2 separate regions of the Homo sapiens genome follow, and region 1 is linked to region 2. Evidence: fine-mapped expression QTL. Tissue or cell type: atrial appendage. Region 2 holds a variant in brackets; the other region holds the start of a gene. All regions are shown on one strand. Distances are between the middles of the regions. Region 1 holds the start of ECT2L (epithelial cell transforming 2 like). Region 2 overlaps ECT2L (epithelial cell transforming 2 like).

Region 1 (4,397 bases), 67 kb after region 2:
GATGCTAGGAGAATCTTTTGTTCTAATATTTGGTTTTTGACCCCAGTTCCTGACACAGAGCTCCGAAATCCCTTGGAATTTCCTGGGTGATAGGAGCATCTTTTGTTCAGATGAAGTGAATCTTGGTGGACCCCTAGATAGCTTCAGGATGGGGGCTGGTTACCAGGGAAACCAACCATGTGATTATGCAGCTGGAACTTTCAGCTCCATCCTCTGACCTCTGGGGAAGAGAGAAGGGCTCAAGTTGAGTGATCACCAATGGCCAATGATGTCATCAATTGTGCCTATGAATGAATCCTCCATTAAAATCCCAAAGGACAAGATTCAGGGATCTTTGGGATAGCTGAACATGTGGAGGGGCTGAGAAGGCATGGAAGTTCCACACCCTTGCCCACATACCTTTCTCTGGGCCTCTCTTCTATCTGGCTATTCATCTGTCCTTTGTAATATCCTTTATAATAAATGGGCAAACATAAGTAAAGTGTTTCCTTGAATTCCGTGAGTCACTCTAGCAAATTAATCAAACCGGAGGAGGGGCTTGTGGGAATCCAGATTTGTAACTGGTTGGTTAATCATAAACAACATATAGTCACAACCTGGGACTTGTGATTGGCATTTGAAGTGGGGGGCAGTCTTTTGGGACTGAGCCCTGAACGTATGGGATCTGACACTAACTCCAGGTACACAGTGTCAGAACTGGGTTAAATTATAGGACGTAGAGTTGGTGGCCACTGGAGAATTGGTTGTCGGTGGGAAGAAATTCCCATACATTTTGGTGACAAGAGGTGAAGGGCTGTACTGAGTGTGTGAGAGTAAAGAGAAAAAAGTTTTTTGTTTTTTTTTTCCTCTCAGAACAACCAAAGCCAGATTAAAAGATGAAATGGCTGAACAATTGCCAGCCCATATAGAGAGCTAAATCCTCACTGGGATCACACAGAAGAGCAATGATGTCAATTAACTGTGTTTCCACAGGTTATCTGTTATACAGCTGGAGAAATGCAAGTTAGTCTGGTCCTTCTCCACTACAGTAGACAGAGTGGCTTAGAAATTAAAACACTGCTCCTCGGCAGAGGTATGTACCTACATGCGCGTACTTCTGCAATTCACACATGCAAATTGTGCAATGATTCCTTTATTTATCAAAAATTTACTTCCTTAAATATGCCTCCAAAAAGGTATCTGGTTCTAAAGATCGCACAAAAGAACGGGAGTAGAAGAAAAGTAAGTGTGATTGGTGAAAAAACAGAAATGAAAGACAATTCCAGTTGAGTTAAATGTCCCACATTTAGGGCATGTAAAACTACATGCCAGTATATAATTTTTATTAAGTACACACTAAGCAATGGATAATGAAAATAATGGCGTGTTTTGAGGAAACCTGGGCTATTGATCTTACAGGCGGTGATAGAAAATACCATACTTGTGCTGGTATTTTCAAATGGTGGATGTGCTCACTGATTTATAAGTTTAAAGCTATAAAACTAAAGCTGTAACAAACAAGATGCAACTGTTGCTATAAAACTTCCAAGTCCTTAACCCTTCTTCCTCCCACTGAAATAAGTGTTTGTAGAGCATGATTTTTGAGGTTTCTGTGGAGCACAAATGTCAGTTCCTGCAGAACAGACTTTAACAGGCTTGGATACAATTGCATGGGTTGCAGTGAACTTTAACACCAATGATGTCAGGATATTGTGTTCTGATACATATGCAAAGTTTATTAATAAGCACAGCATCGGTATTTTTAAATCGATATTTTAAAGTACCACTGTTTTATTTGTCCTGCTCATCAAATCTTAGCATATTAACTCTTAGAGCTATCCTTATAACCAAGACCTATATTCACAGTAGATTTTTTGTATTCCTCCCTCATTCCCCCAACCCAGCCCCCACCCTACTCCCTACATTTTTGGACCCCATAGGAGGAAAGAGGGAGAGAACTGTCAGAAGGAAGAAGGCAGTTGGTGTGAACCTATGAAAATCAGCGTTTTCCAAAGTGTTCAAGAACTTTACTTCGATCCCAAATCAGTTCTCTGGAGGAGGTAAGAGTTTACTTGGCATGGCCCGATGCAAACCCTACCCTACGCGTGGATTTTGTTTCTCCCCAGAGCCTCTTCAGAATCTTGGTTAATTCCAGAGCTGCTAAGGGACTCCAGGGTCGCGGAGGGAGGGCCCTGCGCCCCTCAGCGCTGCTTAGGGTCTTCCTGGGCGACTGCACTGGGAAACTAAGCCGGCCCAGGCGATGTGCCCCGGGCGGCCCCAAGAAAAAGACTAGCGGCTCAGAAGCCACGGGCTTTACCTCTAGGAAGTGGCTATGAGGCCCGGTACAGTGGCGGCTGTCTCCTCTTGGAACCGCGCAGTGAAAATCGAGTGCGCCAACTCGGGCCGCAGCTCCGGAGAGGGGTGGGGCAGGGACAGGGTCATCTCCATAGGGATCCAACAACACGGAGCCACCACCCCGCCCCACAGGCCCGCAGCCCCTCCCGCCGCCGCGCCCGGACGGCCAACCTGCATCTCCCCAGCTGCAGTGAGCAAAGCCGCCCGCGCCGTGCGAGCCACCGCCCTTCTCTTGAGGCCAGCTAGGCTCGGGTCCCGGCTCCTTTCCCTGCCTCCAGGGAGCTTGCGGTGGGAGAAAGCTTCCGTGGGGTCCCGTGGGTCGCGGCACGTCTCGGAAGCCCTGCGAGGTGCCCAGCAGAGGTGCCAGACCCAAGGCCGTGGGACCCCAAGAAGAGACTTGGACACTGAAGCCAACGTTTGCTTGATCTCAAACAAAGCCAGCGATGTTAATTAAGGCTGTGTGATGAGGAAAGTGGAGTTTCTTATTTTTTGTCACATTCATCTTCAGCAGATCCTCAGAAAATGTTAATATTTACTGCAGAATTACCAATTTCAGCATTATACAGGAGGTACAAAAACAAAACCAAAAAACCCTTCTTCATTAGTTTCAGGTCAAAATGTCTTTTAACTATTTATTGTGAAGCCTGTTTTTTTCTTTTGTATGTAATAGTTATGGCCATGAAAAGATGCTCACAGTACATTACTTACAAAAAGCAGCTTAGAAAACCAGCAGAATGGTACGATCTATTTTTTTTGCAACGTGTGTAAGAAATCTGGGAGTATGTACACAAATAGGTTAAATGGTTTGCTCTGGTAGTTTTAAAAATCATCTGTAATTCAATTTTTCCTACAACGAATAAGCAACATCTATGTAATAAACCATAAGTTTCATTCTAGTAAAGTTTCATATGAGAAATGTGATCTTGCTATGCTGCCTAGGCTGGAGTGCAGTGGCTATTCACAGGCCTGGTCATTGTGCACTATATTTTTATTTTTATTTCAAATATCTTTTTCTTTTTCATCTGTATGCCAGTAAAATCATCATTGTACACTATAGCCTAGAACTCCTGGGCTCAAGCAATCCTCCCGCCTCAGCCTCCAGAGTAGCTAAAAGTACTGGTGCCTGTCACCAAACCAGGCCTTAAATTTTATTCTAATCCAGGCACTGCATTTTTTCCTGTTTCCTTGAACATGTGTTTAAGGAGTGTGAAAGGATACAAATTAGATAAGCTAATATTTCGCTACCTGGGACCCATTTAGGGCCCTGTGACACAAAGGGCGAATGAACCAAGTGAATAAACAAGGTCAATCCACTGCTCTGTCACAACCCGCAGGAACCAGCTTTTTGCTTTACTCTATCTCAGGACCAATCCAAGAAAAACATGTCACATGACAAAGTGTCCTTTCGCCCTGTCAGACCCTAGAGTACGACTTTTTCCCCCTTAAATCCCTATTCTCACAACCCAAATGAAGTTTCCTCCATGATGCTGTAATTTTTAAAAGGGGTATTAAAAAGACCAATTTACTGATCAAAATACTTTGAATTCAGAAAGCCAAAAATTATTAAAATCAAGATTTGAAAAATATTCAGTAAGTCCCTCTCCTCCCCTCCCCCAATTAGGTGCTTATTTCTGTGGCCTGGAAACAAGGAGACAGAAGCATGAGCATCTTCTGCAACACAAAGGTAACTGAGTTATAAATAAGCAAAATGTGTTCTATCCATACCATGGCATATGATCAGCCAAAACAAGAAATGAAGTACATGCAATAACATGGATGAAGCTTCAATCCTTGAAAACATCATGCTAAGTAAACGAAACCAGTCACAAAAGGCCACGTATTGTATGATTCCATTTATATAAAATGTCTAGAATAGAAAATCCAGAGAGCTGGAAAGGAGGTTAGTGGCTGCCAAAGGCTGAGGGGATTAGGGGACAAGGAGTGACTGTTAATGGGATTCTTTTTAGTGTGATGAAAATGTTCTAGAATTAGATCACGGTGATGGGTATATAACTCTATGAATCTACTAACAATCACTGAATTGTACACTTTAAAGGGGTACA
Region 2 (4,397 bases):
ACAGCTCTTGTGTAGATGGTAACTATGTAAACAGACCTTAAATATGGAGCTGGGCAGAGGAAAAGAAGAAAGGCATAGATAGAGGGTGATTTGATTCATATGGTGTTTTAGTCAGGCGGAAAGTAGTAGGGGAAAAATTGAATAGATATGAGTAGTTGCAGATGAGAAAAAGAAAAACTCTTTACCTAGATGGTGAAATATACTTAAAGAATGGACTAATTTAGGTAAAGATGCAAAGTTGAGGAAGTAAATTGTTTTCAAAGGGCTCTGCTGTGATCATTCATTCCGTCATGGGGCTGGGGTGTGAATGGAAACATTCATTCAACCACGTCTAATAGGCTCAGCAAAGGCCCATGGAGCCCATCACTGAATTATATATTTTAGACAGAAAATAAATAGAACTTTAATTGTAGAACAATTTATGTAATAGGTGCTGGGGTATAAGAGGCGCTTAACTTTCAGAGCAAATTCTAGTGGGAAAAGTGCACAGCTCTCTGGCTTAGCAAACAGCAAATTGTGTCTAGGTAAATAAGTGACAAACAAGAATTAATAAGGTGGTAAAATGTTAAAATAAGAACGAGCTTCAACATTTTGAACCTGAATATATTTGTTGTTAGTGGTTGTTCGTTATATTTGAAAGGCCGTGTGAGCAACCTAGGAGATAAAATTTTACTGGAGATGTTCAAGAGTAAAATTTTACTTGCGCCATAACTAAACTTGTATTTACTCGGGATATGAAAGCAACTTCATAATTAACCTGCAACAGAAGTAGCAAGACTGCTTACCTATCATCCTGCCACTGATGCTCTTCTGCAGTTCCTTGAAGAAAGGATACAGCTGCTTCCTTACTGTTTTCAAGGTTTCTTCTAGGAAGTCTGTGAAGCTGGACCACGTCTGTAGCTTCGATTCGCAGAAGTAGATGGAAGAGGGGGCCTTTCCCCATTGGGATCCCAGCCAATCACTAAGAACTGACATGATTTTCTTCTGTTATTATTGCAGGCTTGAGCTCAGATGAAACAATTCTACATCTTGTTTAAAGTACAACAAAATCTTAGTTGCATTTGTATTGAGTTTATTATCGTTTCTCATTAGAAGACTAAGACAAACACCCATCCTCTGTTTTCAAAGGTAAAATTAGAAACTCGAAAAGGATTCAATGAATCATTTCAAATGCATGTCTACTCTTTGATAGCTGAGGCTGACATATTCCATTCAATGTTTAAAGAAAAAAAACAGCTGCTGGATTGTGCATTGGGAAGCTGAGCTGTCATCTGAGGAAGAATGCACTGCTTTATCTTTCCAGTCTAAAAGTGAAAACACAAGAAATCCCACGCTACACGGCTTCCCCATCAGGCCATTGGAAGTCAACCCTGTCATCGCCAATGGAAGTCAACCCTGTCATCACCAAATCCTTATCTTTCTTAAATTATGTCAAACTGCTACCTCGCTCTACAAATCTGTCTACAGGACTGTAGCAGGTGCTTAAAGAAAGTTTCTCTTCTTAAAAAACAATTACTGGATGATGCAGTGGTGTGTTAAATTTGATTTTCTGTCCTGAATGGATACATAGTGTATTTGCTTTGTTTCCTCTACTGTTACTGATAGACATGTGAAAAGGTTCACAACATGTTTTTGTTTCTGTTTGAGACAGTCTTGCTCTGTCACCCAGTCTGGAGTATGGTGGCACGACCTCAGCTCACTGCAACCTTCGCCTCCCGGGTTCAGGCAATTCTCGTGCCTCAGCCTCCTGAGTAGCTGGGATTACAGATGTGTGCCACTACTGCCCAGCTTATTTTTGTATTTTTAGTAGAGACGGGGTTTCACCATGTTGGGCAGGCTGGTCTCGAACTCCTGACCTCAGGTGATCTGCCTGCTTCAGCCTCCCAAAGTGCTGGGATTACAGGTGTGAGCCACTGCGCCCGGCCACAACATGCTTTTTTTTTTTTTTTTTTTTTTTTTTTAAATACGGAGAATGAGAACAAGAGAGGGAAAAGGAGGATGAACAGGAGGAAAGGAAGGCAGAGGAGGAGAAAAAGAAGAAAACCTGTTCCCGGCCAGATGCGGTGGCTCACGCCTGTAATCCCAACACTGGGAGGCTGAGGCGGGCGGATCACAAGGTCAGGAGATCAAGACCATCCAGGCCAACATGGTGAAACCCCGTCTCTACTAAAAATACAAAAATTAGTCGGGCGTGGTGGCACATGCCTGTAGTCCCAGCTACTCAGGAGGCTGAGGCAGGAGAATCGCCTGAACCCAGGAGGCGGAGGTTGCAGTGAGCCTAGATCGAGAACGTGCCGCTGCACTCCAGCCTGGCAACAGTGTGAGACTCTGTCTCAAAAAAAAAAAAAGAAAGAAAACCTGTTCCCTATTACCAGCAACAGCGTTCATACCCTGCTGTGCTCTGCTAGGCCAGTTCCTCTCTCCGCAGAGCCAAATGTGCTACCGTTTGGTGACGCTGCTATATTAACTAAAATTAGCAAGTGACCTCTGCTTCAAAACTATGTTAGGTCAAAGCACTTTTGTTATATCTACAAAGAAT[A/C]TTTTCCCTTACCAGTTTCACAGTTGTGCCAGCTTTCCCAAGTTCTAAAAGGCCCTTGGCATTTAGGAGTAGAGAAGCAATGATTTATATAGTTTCTGCATCACTCTCAGCCCTACTTGATAGGAATCAAGGGTGTTTTAAAGAGGAAAATGAGTGGTGTCGGTGTAACAAAGCAATTTGGTTCTGTTGTTGGTCAGCCCGTGTTACATTTTAATCTAAATTTGCAGCTTTAGTATCTAAATGAAAGTTTGCTTTCAGGTGTATTTTCTCTGATTGTTTTTCCTCTCAGATAATGCTACTGTAATGGAAACTAAGCCAGCCTCTTTGCCATCTCTTTGTAGCTACGATTTATTTTTCCAAATAAAACCATATTGACTATATATATGTTACTAAGAAAAGTTTTTCTTTGTACTTCTTACTTTTCTAGATCAGCAACTTTGCTTAATTGCTAAAGATTATGTTTTCAACAGTTTTTGAAAATGATGATTTGGGGCAAATATGTGCAATAAATAATCCTGTTCTAAGCAAATGACTGAATGATAGGAGATTACCTAGTTTGGGAACTAATAGCGTTCCTTCAGGGGAGGAATGAAAGAGAGTAATGGATATCAGCCATACCAGTACTATTAACTGGATTTTGTCTTTTGGTGATTCTGGAGTTGGCTTGTGTTATTGGACGTGGCGCTCAGCTCCCATAACACTTACTGTGCTGGTAAGAGCCAGTTGCAATCCCAGTGGGGGCCGTAAAGAACGTGCCAGTTAGTTGAGACAGCTGGGAAAGAACTTCAATTCCTGCCTCTGCATAGTCAAAAACACTTTCGTTAGTTTCCTCATATATTTTGCCATGGAAGATCATATAACTTGGATATTTGTTCCCTCCAAATCTCATGTTGAAATCTAATCCCCAACGTTGGAGGTGGGGCCTGGCAGGAGGGATCATGAGGGCGGATCCCTCATGAATAACTAGTGCCATCCCCTTAGTGATGAGTGAGTTCTCACTCTGAGTTCACACAAGATCTGGTTGTTTAAAAGTGTGTGGCACCTCCTCCCTCTCTCTTGTTCCTGCTCTTGCCATGTGACACACCACCTGCCCCTTCACCTTCTGCCGTGATTATAAGCTCCCTGAGGCCCTCACCAGATGCCAAGCAGATGCCAGTGGCATGCTTCCTATACAGCCTGGAGAACCATGAAGTAATTAAACCTCTTCTCTTTATAAATTACCCATCCTCAGGTATTTCTTTATAGCAATGCAAGAACAGACTAATCCAGAGCAGTTAAATATTACGTAGGGGCACTAAAGAGATGGCCAAGAAAGGCCACTAGCAGTTCTCATCTTCCATTCAAACCTCTCCATTGAACAGTCCATGAACACTTCATCATTCACCCCTAAATATTGAAGCTGAAACAGTCTGAGGACTAAACTACAGGATGGGGAAAGAGGGCATGGAGTTTGATCTGAGGCTTATTTTCAGATTTGGAATACCCAGCCCAAAGAAAGAGAAAAATCTATATATTTTTTTCTAAAATAGTCTGACTCAAAGGAGAAGTCTCATTGTAAGAGGACAGATTTTAAAAAGTTAAAAACAGGATGGAATATGATGGTTAAAATTTAGCCCCTTCCCTGGGCAAAGACTTCATGACTAAAACACCAAAAGCAATTGCAACAAAAGCCAGAATTGACAAGTGGGATCTAATTAAACTAAAAAGCTTCTGCACAGCAAAAGAAACTATCATCAGGGTGAACAGGCAACCTACAGAATGGGAGAAAATTTTTGCAATCTATCCATCTGACAAAGGGCTAATATCCAGAATCTACAAGGAACTTAAACAAATTTACAAGAAAAAAAAATCCCCATCA

The links. PIP is the estimated chance that this variant, and not a neighbour inherited with it, causes the effect.
Region 1: it holds the start of ECT2L, and the variant in region 2 is the best candidate, but not a certain one, in a credible set for the expression of ECT2L in atrial appendage (GTEx, PIP 0.75).

What each region holds. Positions count from the first base shown.
Region 1 is chr6:138,794,092-138,798,488 of GRCh38, reverse strand. It overlaps ECT2L (epithelial cell transforming 2 like), which reads right to left and starts at 2,402. Exons shown (of 22, transcript NM_001077706.3): 1 at 2,297-2,402.
Region 2 is chr6:138,861,567-138,865,963 of GRCh38, reverse strand. ECT2L (epithelial cell transforming 2 like) reads right to left here. Exons shown (of 22, transcript NM_001077706.3): 11 at 3,245-3,337; 12 at 786-968. Among named protein-coding and RNA genes, the nearest start is that of ECT2L, 68 kb to the right of the region's middle. The variant A/C (reference allele first, on the strand shown) is at 2,540.